Linked DNA regions of Homo sapiens: all the other regions are linked to region 1. Evidence: fine-mapped expression QTL. A gene starts in region 1. Each other region holds a variant in brackets. All regions are shown on one strand. Distances are from middle to middle. Region 1 holds the start of STYXL1 (serine/threonine/tyrosine interacting like 1). Region 2 overlaps RHBDD2 (rhomboid domain containing 2). Region 3 has its middle 2.8 kb from the start of HSPB1.

Region 1 (4,156 bases):
TTGCAGTGAGCCAAGATGGCGCCACTGCACTCCATCCTGGGCAACAGAGTGGGACTCTGTCAGGTCCATCCTGGCCAACATGGTGAAACCCCATCTCTACTAAAAACACAAAAATTAGCTGGGCACGGTGGTGCGCGCCTGTAGTCCCAGCTATTCGGGAGGCTGAGGCAGGAGAATCGCTCCAACCTGGGAGGTGGAGGCTGCAGTGAACCGAGATCACGCCACTGCACTCCAGCCTGTCGACAGGGCGAGGCACTGCATCAAAAAAAGTAAATAAAATTGGTACCCTCTTCCCTAACACAAGCACCCTACAATCCCCATTTTTCTTGCATGTTCATCACTATTTTAAGATACTTTATAATGAGTGGGGCAATAAGTAAAATATCTAGTAATTTCCGTGAGAGCAGGGACTTCTGTGTTTTGTTCACCGCTGTATTTCCAGTACCTAGCTCAATAAATATGTCGGATATCTGAAGGTCCTACCAAAACTCAACCTCTCCCTGGACACCCCTGTCCTCTCTTTGGTTGGCTGCCCCTCCCCCACACCTCATCCCTCCTGTCCTGTTTACTCATTCCCTAAGACCTTCATCGCCTCCACCTGTCCTAAGTTTACTCATTCCCTAAGACCTTCATCGCTTCCACCTGTCCTAAGTTTACTCATTCCTGTCCCATATCAAGTGTCACTTCTCACTTATCTTGGTATCCCCTGCAGCACCCAGCATAGTTGTTGGCAAGCACAGGTACTTAATGTACTTATCTGTATACAGCTGGGCCCCCACTTCACCGCAGCGCAAAAGCATTTGGTACATTCAACTTACAATGGGGTTGCCTGTGGGAACCCATTGCAAGTTGAAAATACACAAAGTTAAACTCGCCTTTTGACTTAGGATATTACCAACTTGCGATGGGTATGGGAAGTAGCCATCAATCCAGGAGCATTTGTATTTATTTTTCAAATGAACTGGATGTACAGGAAACTCGAGAACTTCGATGATAAATTTGGATTCCCCTTTAAAATTACCTCCCTCTTGGGCGTCGTAATTAAAAGGCAATGCGAGCACCTCCTGGGTTCTCAAAATTAGGTTTAATTAGATTCACCTGGTAAAAATGCGGACCCCCCCCCCCCCCCCCGCAGTCTTAAGCTTCTTCAATGAACCCAGACGTCTGTTTTTTATTAGCTTTCTGGTGATTCTGACACACTGCAGAGTTTAAGAACCACCATTCTAGAAGATGGCTAAAAATAGCCTAGGCTCCTAGGCTTAAGTGGTCGCGGGCCAAGTCAAGCACTGTTAAGACACCTGGCGGCAGGCTCAGTCCGCCCACAGCAGGAGAGATCCTCCAAAAAGGTTAAGAGGAAGCCGTCTTCAGGTCAGAAGCGCTGAATTCTAATCCTCTGGCCAAATGACTGTAACCCTGGCCCAGTTCTCTAGCCTCGGTTTGTCCATACTATGGAATTAGGAAGTATACGATTTCTTTTATTCACGCACAACTCACACGGATGCTGCAAGGAGATTAGCTACGTCAAAGCAATGGAACGCTGCAGAAAAAAACGTAAGTTTACTTTCAGATGCAGAGCCCTGGTTTCCCAACCTTGAAGGCGTGCAAGCCAAGAGCAGGTCCTCTGGGAAATCTGGGAGACCTGGGGGAACCCTGACAAATGGACCGGCCCTGGAGCGGGACTACCTCGCCCCCTTTTCCCCGGCTTTCTCCCCCGCACCTCCAGGCCAGTGTCAGGGCCTGCCCCGGGCGCCACAGTCTCCAGCCAGTGCCGGGCATCCCTGCGGTCCAGGCTGGCCTGGAGAGGGTCAGAGCTGCCCGCGAACCGGGGACGCACGTGGCCCGGGCCGGGGGGCCTCCGCCTGCAGGCCGCCCCTCGTCTGGCCTACCTGGGCCGAGGTGCTGAAGCTGCGGCGGAGAGCAGCGCTGGCAGGCCGGGCGAGGGCGGAGAGCATGGCTGGAGCGGGAGGGGCACCGACTGGCAGGCACAGGAGCTGGTGACGGGGAAGTGACTCCAACGACCTCCACACTGCCCAGCGCCTGCTCTCTGGGGCCTCGCGAGAGTGACCGGACTTCCGGTCGCGCTCGCCTCCGGGATCTCGTGAGATCACGGCCACTTCCGGGAGTCGGAAAGGAAAGCTGTGGGACCATCCTGGCAACCCCGGTGTTTGGCTGGGTTCTAGCGTAGCCGTCTGTGTGGCCGGTGGGGGACCTGCGGTCGGAGTGGGAGGGCCAGTCTGCACCCAAGAGGTGGAAGAGGACGGGCTTTAGGCTGGAAGCGCCTTAGAGGAGCCATTTTTCCAGGTGGGGCCCCAGGCAGAGGCTCCGACAGGGAGCCTGGCCATAGTCGCGCAGCCGGGGAGGTGGAGCGCGTCCCAGACCCGAGCCCCCGACCTCAGCCAAACCCATTCCTTCTGCCCTTGGAGGCCAGAGGGGACTCTGAGCTCCGGAAAGGTAGGGTCAGGGAGGCTGAGAGTCCTTAGGCGGGGTGGGAGGAAGGGGCCATCTCCTCAGATCCGGGCCGTCGTTTCCCAAGTTGCAGAGACCCTTGGGTTCAGGTTTAGTGACACCACTGCTGATAATGGCGACCTCCAGCCCTGCAAGCTTTAGAGGACCACTATTCTGTGTTCCAGATGAGCAAATAGGTTGTAGGGACAACAACTTCCGTGGTCATACAGTTCCTGTCTTCTCTCGCCTGCCCGGCAGTGCTCTGACGGTCCCACTGTTTCTGCTTTACGAATAAAGACACTGTGGCTGAGGCCAAGTGGATTTGTAGAGTTTACGCAGACAGAAAGTCGAGTAGAATTCCTTGCTCACAATGAGTTTATTACTTAAATGTATGAATTTATTTATTTTTTTGAGACGGAGTCTCTCTAGCCCAGGCTGGAGTGCAGTGGCGCGATCTTGGCTCACTGCAACCTCTGCCTGTCAGGTTCAAGTGGTTCTCCTGCCTCATTCTCCTGAGTAGCTGGGATTAGCGCACCACTACACCTGGCTAATTTTTTGTATTTTTTTTTTAGTAGAGACGGGGTTTCACCACGTTGGTCAGGCTGGTCTCGAACTCCTGACCTCGTGATCCACCCGCCTCGGCCTCCCAAAGTGCTGAGATTACAGGCGTGAGCCACCGCGCCCGGCCTGATACATATTTTTAAAATTAAACAACACCCCCAGGCAAGGTGGCTCATGCCTGTAATCCCAGCACTCTGGGAGGCTGAGGCGGGCCGATCACTTGAGGCCAGGAGTTCATGACCAGCCTGGCTAACATGGTGAAACCCCATCTCTACTAAAAATACAAAAATTAGCCCAGCGTGGTGGTGTACACCTGTAGCCCCAACTACTCCGGAGGCTGAGGCAGGAGAATCGCTTGAACCCGGGAGGTGGAGGGAGGTTGCAGTGAGCCGAGATAACCCCACTGTACTCCAGCTTGGGCGACGGAGAAAGACTCTGTCTCAAAAAAAAAAAAAAAAAAAGCCGGGTGTGGTGGCTTATGCCTGTAATCCCAGCACTTTGGGAGGTCAAGGCGGGCAGATCACCTGAGGTCAGGAGTTTGAGACCAGACTGGCTAATGTGGCGAAACCCCATCTCTACTAAATATACAAAAATTGGCTGGGCATGGTGGCGTGTGCCTGTAGTCCCAGCTACTCAGGAGGCTGAGGCAGGAGAATCCCTTGAACCCAGGAGGTGGAGGTTGCTGTGAGCCAAGATTGTGCCATTGTACTCCATCCTGGGTGATAAGAGCTAAACTCCGGCTCAAAAGCGCGCGCGCGCGCGCGCGCACACACACACACACACACACACACACACACACACACACACACACACACACACACACACACACACAGCAGATAAGCTGAGACATGCTGGAAGAGTAGGTGTTTCTCAATGGAACATTCAACTCCAGAGGAGGGAAAGATCCCTTGCCTTGGAATCAGAATTCTCAAAGGAGGGGCACTAGGGCCTGAGCATTTAACAATGGGAAATGTTTAGACAGGAAAGGAGGAGAAAAAAGGCCAAATAAAATCCTAGCGGGAAAAAATAAGCATAGGCCAGTATTCAGGGGACAGTGAATAGATCATTTATTTTGGAGTGGGGACATTAGGGCAAGCAGTGTCCTTTGTTTATCTTATCACTGACTGCATCTTCTGGTAATTATTTACTC
Region 2 (4,156 bases), 160 kb after region 1:
CTGGGTGTGGCAGTGTCTGTGAGGCTGATTGCAATTCAGCATGGAAGAACTCTTTTTTTTTTTTTTTGAGACGGAGTCTCGCTCTTTTGCCCAGGCTGGAGTGCAGTGGCGCGATCTCGGCTCACTGCAAGCTCCACCTCCCAGGTTCACACCATTCTCCTGGCTCAGCCTCCCGAGTAGCTGGGACTACAGGTGCCCACCACCGCACATGGCCAATTTTTTGTATTTTTAGTAGAGATGGGGTTTCACCGTGTTAGCCAGGATGGTCTCGATCTCCTGATCTCGTGATCCACCCGCATCAGCCTCCCAAAGTGCTGGGATTACAGGTGTGAGCCACCGCGCCCGGCCCTTCAGCATGGAAGAACTTTCTCATCAGGGCCAGTCTTGGAGAGTGAGCTCTTGTATGTGAGATACAGCTGGAGACCACCATCAGCTATTACAGAGGGGATTCCTTGGTGACAGACAGTTCTCCAGATTCAATGAGAACAACTAAAACCCACAAAACACCTAGTCCTAAATGTACAGTCTCCCCCACATTGAGACCCCAGGAATTACTTGCCTGAAGCAATAATGCGGTGAGTCCGCATTTCTGTTTTCCCAGCAGCCCTCCTGGCCTTTTAGAAAAATAGTCCAAGGGCTCTGAGCTGTTGACAGCTGGGAGCACCTCTTGGAAGAAGCTCTAAGGGCAGCTTCCTATTCAACAAAAACCCCACATCCAGGCCAGCGTGCAGGGGAAAATTTACTCCACAGCTGGTGGCGGGCCAAAAAGGGCCAAGGACCAAGCACCTTGCCTTCTGATACACTTTGGATGTTTCCTCTGCTCCAAATCATGTGCTGAAATGGATCTTTAGCCGGGTATAGTGGCACGCGCCTATAATTCCAAGTACTTGGGAGGCTGAGACAGGAGAATCACTTGAACCCAGGAGGTGGAGGTTGCAGTGAGCTGAGATCACGCCACTGCACTCCAGCCTGGGCCACAGAGTGAGACTCCATTTCAAAAAAAAAGAAACGTGATTCCCAGTGTTCCAGCACTAGAGGTGGAGCTCAGTGGGAGGCGTCTGGGTCACGGGGGCAGACCTTGCGTGAGTGGCTTGGCTTCTTCCCCGTAGTAATGAGTTCTCCCTCTGAGTTTAGGTAAGAGCTGGGTGTTTAAGAGCCCAGCACCTCCCTCCCTCTCTCAATGTGTGGTGCCGCCTCCCCTTGCCCTATGATTGGAAGCTGCCTGAGGCCGGTGCCATGATCCTAGTGTAGCCTACGAAGCCATGAGCCAAATAAACCTCTTTTCTTATAAATGACCCAGGCTCAGGTATTTCTTTATAGCAATACAAAATGGATGAACACGCCTTTCCCAGCGAGCTCCTTTTTTGGGGGGAGGACCACTGAAGGAAAGAAAAAATCCTACACTGTGAGGTCTCAGCATGGACAGAAACCAGCGGAGAACTCAGAGGCAGGAGGCACTGGGAACAGGGGAGAGGGAGGGAGGTGGCCTCCTAAGCAGGGGACGTGCTTCCAGATGGCCCCTCTCCTGACTCTGTTACCTGGAAACAGAGTGGGTGAGAAAGACCCTTGTCTTCTTTGGGCCTCCTCTATAAAATGAAGCAGCCAGGCCACACAAGCTCTGGCGGCTTACCAGCACTTTCCATCTGTGAGTTAATCAGCCAACTGGAAAACAGTAAACCTCACCAGAAAACCTGGGCTGGGCCACCTCCTAAGCAGCCTAGTTGGCTGTGTGGACTGTCTGCACCTTTTTTTTTTTTTTTTTCTTGGGAGACAGTGTCTTGCTCTGTCAACCAGGCTGGAGTGCTGTGGTGTGATCTCGGTGCACTGCAACCTCCACCTCCCAGGTTCGAGTGATTCTCCTGCCTCAGCCTCCTGAGTAGCTGGGATTACAGGCAACCACCACCACGCTTGGATAATTTTTGTATTTTTAGCAGAGATGGGGTTTCATCACGTTGGCCAGGCTCGTCTCAAATTCCTGACCTTATATGATCTGCCCACCTTGGCCTCCCAAAGTGCTGGGATTACAGGCGTGAGCCATCGCACCCAGCCCTATCTGCACTTATCGAGGCTATTGTGTGTCACAGCCCAGGCTGACCTGCAGCAGGTATGTGTCTAAT[G/T]TCAATTAGATGGGGGCCCTCCTGCCCAGCCTATCTACAAGTCACTCAGGATCACATGTTAAGTGTCCTCAAATGCCTTCCCTTTCCTGCTGTTGCTACTTCAGAAGCAGTTGTGCAGAATCCAGAATGCTCAGAAGACATCTGTGCATTATTTTCCAATCTGCCGCACCTCATTTCTTTATCACTTACGGCAATAAACCAGCCACACCCTCTGCATGCCCTGGAGTTGCTTTAATAATAAGGTTAGGCCAGGCTCAGTGGCTCACACCTGTAATCCCAGTACTTTGAGAAATCAAGGAAGGATGGATTGAGACCAGGAGTTTGAGACCAGCCTTGGTAACACAGTGGAGACCCTGTCCCTACAAAAAATTTAAGTTAGCTAGGCATGATGGTATGTGCCTGTAGTCTCAGTTACTTGGGAGGCTGAGGTGGGAGGATCACTTGAGTCCACGAGTGTGAGGCTGTAGCGGGCTATGATCATACCACTGCAATCCAGCCTGGGCAACAGGGCAAGACCCTGTCCTCAAATAAAAAAAAGAATAAAAAAACAGAATAAGATTTGACAGCATTTGGCCGGGGGCAGTGGCTCACGCCTGTAATCCCAGCACTTTGGGAGGCCGAGGCAGGTAAATCACAAGGTCAGGAGTTCGAGACCAGCCTGGCCAACATGGTGAAACCCCATCTCTACTAAAAATACAAAAAAATTAGCTGGATGTAGTGGTGGGCACCTGTAATCCCAGACACTGAGGAGACTGAGGCAGAAGAATCACTTGAACCTGAAGCAGAGGTTGCAGTGAGCCGAGATTGTGCCACTGCACTACAGCCTGGGTGACAGAGTGAGACTCCGTCTCAAAAAAAAAAAATAATTTTTTTTTTAAAAAAGATTTAACAGCACTTAAGAGTTCTGTCACTTACTTCCGGCTCTGGGCTGCCCTCCTCTCGGCTGAAGACCCTGAGACGTACTTGAACACGGATATCCTCCTCATCAGGCTGAAGGGGAAGGTCTGATCGAGCTTCAGTGCCACTCGCTCTGAGAGGTCGATGGAATAGCAGTAGGTGAGGCCATCTGAGGTTGGCGTGTTAAGTGAAACTGGAGGCAGCAAAGGGAGGAGGGCCGAACACTCCCCGGGGAGAACACAGGTTCCCACTCACTCTACAGAAGCCTTCATGCTTAGCACGCTGCACACTCTGGCTGGAGTTTGCAGCTCAGGGGAAACCCAGAGCCAAAGGTTTGTTTTTTTTTTTGAGATGGAGTCTCACTCTAGCAGCCCAGGCTGGAGTGCAGTGGTGTGATCTTGGCTCACTGCAAGCTCCGCCTCCCAGATCACACCATTCTCCTGCCTCAGCCTCCAGAGTAGCTGGGACTACAGGTGCCCGTCACCACACCCAGCTAATTTTTGTATTTTCAGTAGAGACAGTGTTTCACCATATTGGCTAGGCTGGTCTTAAACTCCTGACCTCGTGATCTGCCTGCCTCAGCCTCCCAAAGTGCTAGTATTACAGGCGTGAGCCACTGCGCCTGACCCCAGAGCCAAAGGTTTCTACTCACTGTGCCTCACCGGGAATGAATGCGCCCAGCAGCAGGGGGTATTAATGCTGTCCCTTCTCCTACACCCATGTGTGCCACCACTTGCACCCTTCTAGCCACTGCAGTCAGTCAGAAGCCAGGACATGCCTCTGCTGGTGTAGCAGGATAAGGCAGGAGGCTGTACCAGTATCATCCTGAGGGACTAACACCTCGTCCTTTTATCTCAAATAGAGGGCACCTGCCTCAGTGCGACCATGTGAGCTTCATGTGGGCCTCTCTGGCTGTGCTTCCTCCATACCCTGTCACCATCCCCAGCAACTTGGTGGTATCCTGGTCGTCTGACCTAAGTCACCCACCACTGATTAGGCAGCCACAAAGATTCAGCCTTTGAATAAAGGCTATGCTAGACTCTCCCGAAAAGAGCTTAGAAACAAACCTCAAGTTTCAAGCCAATCTTCAAGTAAGTTAACCGCCTATCAGAACAAAAGTCAACATTTTTTAAAGGAAAACA
Region 3 (4,156 bases), 250 kb before region 1:
CCCCAGCTACTCCAGAGGCTGAAGCAGGAGGATCCTTTGAACCCCGGTGAGTAGAGGCTGTGGTGAGCTGGATTGCACCACTGCACTTCAGCCTGGGCTACAGAGCAAAACCCTGTCTCAAAATAAGTAAATGAATAAATACAAATACAAAAATAAAGCAGTCTGGGCTGGGCGTGGTGGCTCACGCCTGTAATCCCAGCACTTTGGGAGACCGAGGTGGGAGGATCACCAGAGGTCAGGAGTTTGAGACCAGCCTGGCCAACATGGTGAAACCCCATCTCTACTAAAAATACAAAAATTAGCTGGGTGTGGTGGCGGGCGCCTGTAATCGCAGCTGCTGGGGAGGCTGAGGCAGGAGAATTGCTTGAACCCAGAAGGCAGAGGTTGCAGTGAGCCGAGATCTCACCACTGTACTCCAGCCTGGGTGACAGAGTGAGACTCCATCTCAAAAAAAAAAAAAGAAAAAAGAAAAAAGCAATCTAGTAATCTGGTGTGGTTGTTAGGCGTGTGGACTTTGAAGCCAGACTGCCTGAATTCACATCTTTGTTCCATCACTAAGCAGATGAACTTGTGCAAGTTAGATTCTTTGTGCCTCAGTTTCCCCATCTGGAAAATAGAGATGATAATGATGGTAACAGTCATGCATTGCATAAAGATGTGTAAGTCAGCAAGGGACAGCAAATATGAAGGTGGTCCCATAAAATTATATTACTGGCTGGGTGCAGTGGCTGACATCTGTAATCTTAGCACTTTGGGAGGCTGATGTGGGAGGATTACTTGAAGCCAGAAGGCTGGAACAAGCCTGGGCAACACAGTGAGACCCCATCTCTACTAAAATTCAGAACAAATTAGCCAGGCATGGTGGCGTGGACCTGTAGTCCCAGATACTCAGGAGGCTGAGGTGGGAGGAGCACTTGAGCCAAGGAGGTCGAGGCTGCAGTGAGCCTGATGGTGCCACTGCACTCCAGTCCGCATGACAGAACAAGACCCTGTCTCAAAACAAACAAACAAAAACAATTACCGTGTTTTTACTGTACATCTTCTATGTTTTATTTATTTATTTATTTATTTATTTTGAGATGGAGTCTCCCTCTGTCGCCCAGGCTGGAGTGCAGTGGCCTGATCTAGGCTCACTCCAACCTCTACCTCCCAGGTTCAAGTGATTCTTCTGCCTCAGCCTCCTGAGTAGCTGGGACTACAGGCAAGTGCCGCGACACTGGCTAATTTTTGTATTTTTAGTACAGATGGGGTTTCACCATGTTCGCCAGGCTGGTCTTGAACTCCTGACCTCAAGTAATCCACCCGCCTGGGCCTCCCAAAGTGCTAGGATTACAGGCGTGAGCCACCGCGCCTGGCCATCTTCTATCTTTAGAAACACTAATACTTACCCTCATGTTGCAGCTGCCTTCAATATTTGGTGCAGTCATATGCTGTAGAGGTTTGTAGCCTAGGAGCAGTAGGCTAGACCATATGGCTTAGGTGTGTAGTAGGCTAGACCATCTAGGTTTGTGTAAGTCCACTCTGAGATGTTCCCACAATGATGAAATTGCCTAACAAGGAATTTGTTGAATGTGTCTGTTATTAAGTGACTCATGACTGTAATGGGTTGGCCTGAGGATTTGGTGACCTAATGCAGGTGATGACTTTGGCCCGGAGCCTGGTACATCATAATTATTGTTACCTGCCTGGGATTGAAGAGAGGGAAAAGGAAGGAGAATACATGGGGTTTGGCCATTTTCCCCCTTCCCCTAACAGCGCAGCTGGCCCAGATCAGAACCTCCATGGCACAGTGCTGAGAGGGGCCAGGAGGAAGATTACTGTCACATCTCCTACTATATGTATCTTTCCTTAAGAAGCACTGGTTGGCCGGGCGTGGTGGCTCCCACCTGTAATCCCAGCACTTTGAGAGTCTG[A/T]GGCAGACTTATTGCCTGGGTTCAGGAGTTCAAGACCAGCCTGGCCAACATGCCGAAACCCCGTGTCTGCCAAAAATACAAAAAATTAGCCAGGTGTGATGGGTGCCTGTAATCCCGGCTACTGGGGAAGCTGAGGCACGAGGATCATTCCAGGAGGCAGAGGTTGCGGGGAGCTGAGATCGCGCCACTGCACTCCAGCCTCGGTGACAGAACGAGACTCTGTCTCAAACAAAAAAGAAAAAACAAAAAAGAAAAAGAAACACTGGCCAGGAACCTCAAATGCCGCAAACTTGAATTAGTCTGGACTTCCTGTGTCATTCTGGGCAAATCCCCTCCTTTCTCTAGGCCTCAGTTTCCCTTTCTGCAGATTTTGATGCCCACATCACAGAGGGAGAGGGGAGCTCCAAGTAGTAGAGTCTGCACAGAAGTGCTTAGAGCCTGGAGCTTGCCCCTTGACCCTACCTCATCCATCTAAACACCAATGGGATCCTGGCTCCTATCTCCCAGCTTGGAGGGAGGGTGCTGCCCTAGGCTCCTGCCACAACCCTGACATTCCCTCTTTCCTGTCTTTGTAGGCATGGCCATTCCAGCCTTCCTTCTCCCCTGACTTAGGTCCCTGTTTTAGTTGTTGTTGTTTTTTTTTTTTTTGTCTTTTTTTTTTTTTTTTTTTTGAGCCAGAGTCTCACTCTATCACTCAGGCTGGAGTGCAGTGGCGCAATCTCAGCTCACTGCAACCTCCGCCTCCTGGGTTCAAGCGATCCTCCTGCCTCAGACTCCCAAGTGGCTGGGATTACAGGCATGTGCCACCATACCCGGCTAATTTCTGTATTTTTAGTAGAAACGGGGTTTCGCCATGTTGGTCTCAAACTCCTGACCTCAAGTGAGCCGCCTGCCTTGGCCTCCCAAAGTGCTGGGATTACAGGCATGAGCCACCACACCCGGCTAATTTTTGTATTTTTAGTAGAAACAGGGTTTCGCCATGTTGGTCTCAAACTCCTGACCTCAAGTCAGCCACCTGTCTCGGCCTCCCAAAGTGCTGGGATTACAGGTGTGAGCCACCGCACCCGGCCCTGTTATCCCTGGTTTTTAGACAAGGAAACTGCTGTGCACAGAGATTAAATGGCTTTCTGCTGTCTCCGGTAAAGTGCTCTCAGAGCCAACCTCCTGCCTCTCTAGTACCCAGGGCCTCCCACTTCTTCTGTCCCACTGTACTTGCTGTCCCTATCCTGGGACTGAGGCTCCACTCCTCCTACTTCTATGGGGAGCCAAGGCCACTGAAGTCTTGCCCTGCCCAGGCCCAGAATCGGGGCAGACTCCAGGCCACTCACCTTGATGAGCTGGGGAAGCAGCAAGTCCTCATGCCTTCTCTGAGCCTCAGTTTCCTTTTTGAGAGAGAGCTCATAAATGCCTTTCTCTCTCTCCTTTTTTTTTTTTTTTTTTGTTGAGACAGAGTCTCGCTGTGTTGCCCAGGCTGGAGTGCAGTGGAGTGATCATAGCTCATTGCAGTCTTGACCTCCTGGGCTCAAGTGATTCTTCTGCTTCAGCCTCCTGAGTCACTGGGACTACAGATGTGTGCCACCACACTTGGCTAATTTTTAAATTTTTTGTAGAGACAGGTGTCGCACCATGTTGCCCAGACTAGTCTTGAACTCCTGGCCCCAAGAGATCTTTCTGCCTAGGCCTCCCAAAGCACTGGGATCACAGGCGTGAGCCACTGCGCCCGACCTAGATGCCTTTCTTTCTTTCTTTTTTTTTTTGAGACGGAGTCTCACTCTGTCACCCAGGCTGGAGTGCAGTGGTGCGATCTTGGCTCACTGCAAGCTCCGCCTCCCGGGTTCACGCCATTCTCCTGCCTCAGCCTCCAGAGTAGCTGGGACTACAGGCGCCCACCACCACGCCCGGCTAATTTTTTGTATTGTTTTTTTTTTTTTTTTAGTAGAGACAGGGTTTCACTGTGTTAGTCAGGATGGTCTTGATCTCCTGGCCTCGTGATCCACCTGCCTCGCCTCCCAGAGTGCTGGGATTACAGGTGTGAGCCACCGGCCCTAGATGCCTTTCTGTCTTACCCACCTGCTCCCCATCAGGGAAGAGCTGGGGCTGGACCATGAATCTGAGATCACTCCTGGAAAGGCCTCTGAACTCCTGGGGCTCTCGGGAGCCAATGGTGGGAGGCAGACAGGACCCCTGCCTTCTACCTCACCTCCCTGGCTGGGTCATTGTCATGAGCCCAGTGGGTCTCATTT

What was found. PIP is the estimated chance that this variant, and not a neighbour inherited with it, causes the effect. A credible set is the group of variants that fine-mapping cannot tell apart.
Region 2: its variant is the best candidate, but not a certain one, in a credible set for the expression of STYXL1 in esophagus muscle (GTEx, PIP 0.85).
Region 3: its variant is the best candidate, but not a certain one, in a credible set for the expression of STYXL1 in sigmoid colon (GTEx, PIP 0.77).

Annotation. Positions count from the first base shown.
Region 1 is chr7:76,045,957-76,050,112 of GRCh38, reverse strand. STYXL1 (serine/threonine/tyrosine interacting like 1) reads left to right here and starts at 2,113. Exons shown (of 9, transcript NM_001317785.2): 1 at 2,113-2,451. MDH2 (malate dehydrogenase 2) reads right to left here and starts at 2,007. Exons shown (of 9, transcript NM_005918.4): 1 at 1,887-2,007. The coding sequence starts at 1,952. RefSeq lists enhancers at 1,076-1,857, 2,133-2,212, 2,323-2,412, 1,858-2,640 and a silencer at 1,723-1,882.
Region 2 is chr7:75,882,725-75,886,880 of GRCh38, reverse strand. RHBDD2 (rhomboid domain containing 2) reads right to left here. Exons shown (of 4, transcript NM_001040456.3): 3 at 3,033-3,183. Among named protein-coding and RNA genes, the nearest start is that of RHBDD2, 5.8 kb to the right of the region's middle. The variant G/T (reference allele first, on the strand shown) is at 2,118.
Region 3 is chr7:76,297,832-76,301,987 of GRCh38, reverse strand. No RefSeq gene overlaps it. Among named protein-coding and RNA genes, the nearest start is that of HSPB1, 2.8 kb to the left of the region's middle. RefSeq lists a silencer at 2,282-2,576. The variant A/T (reference allele first, on the strand shown) is at 1,914.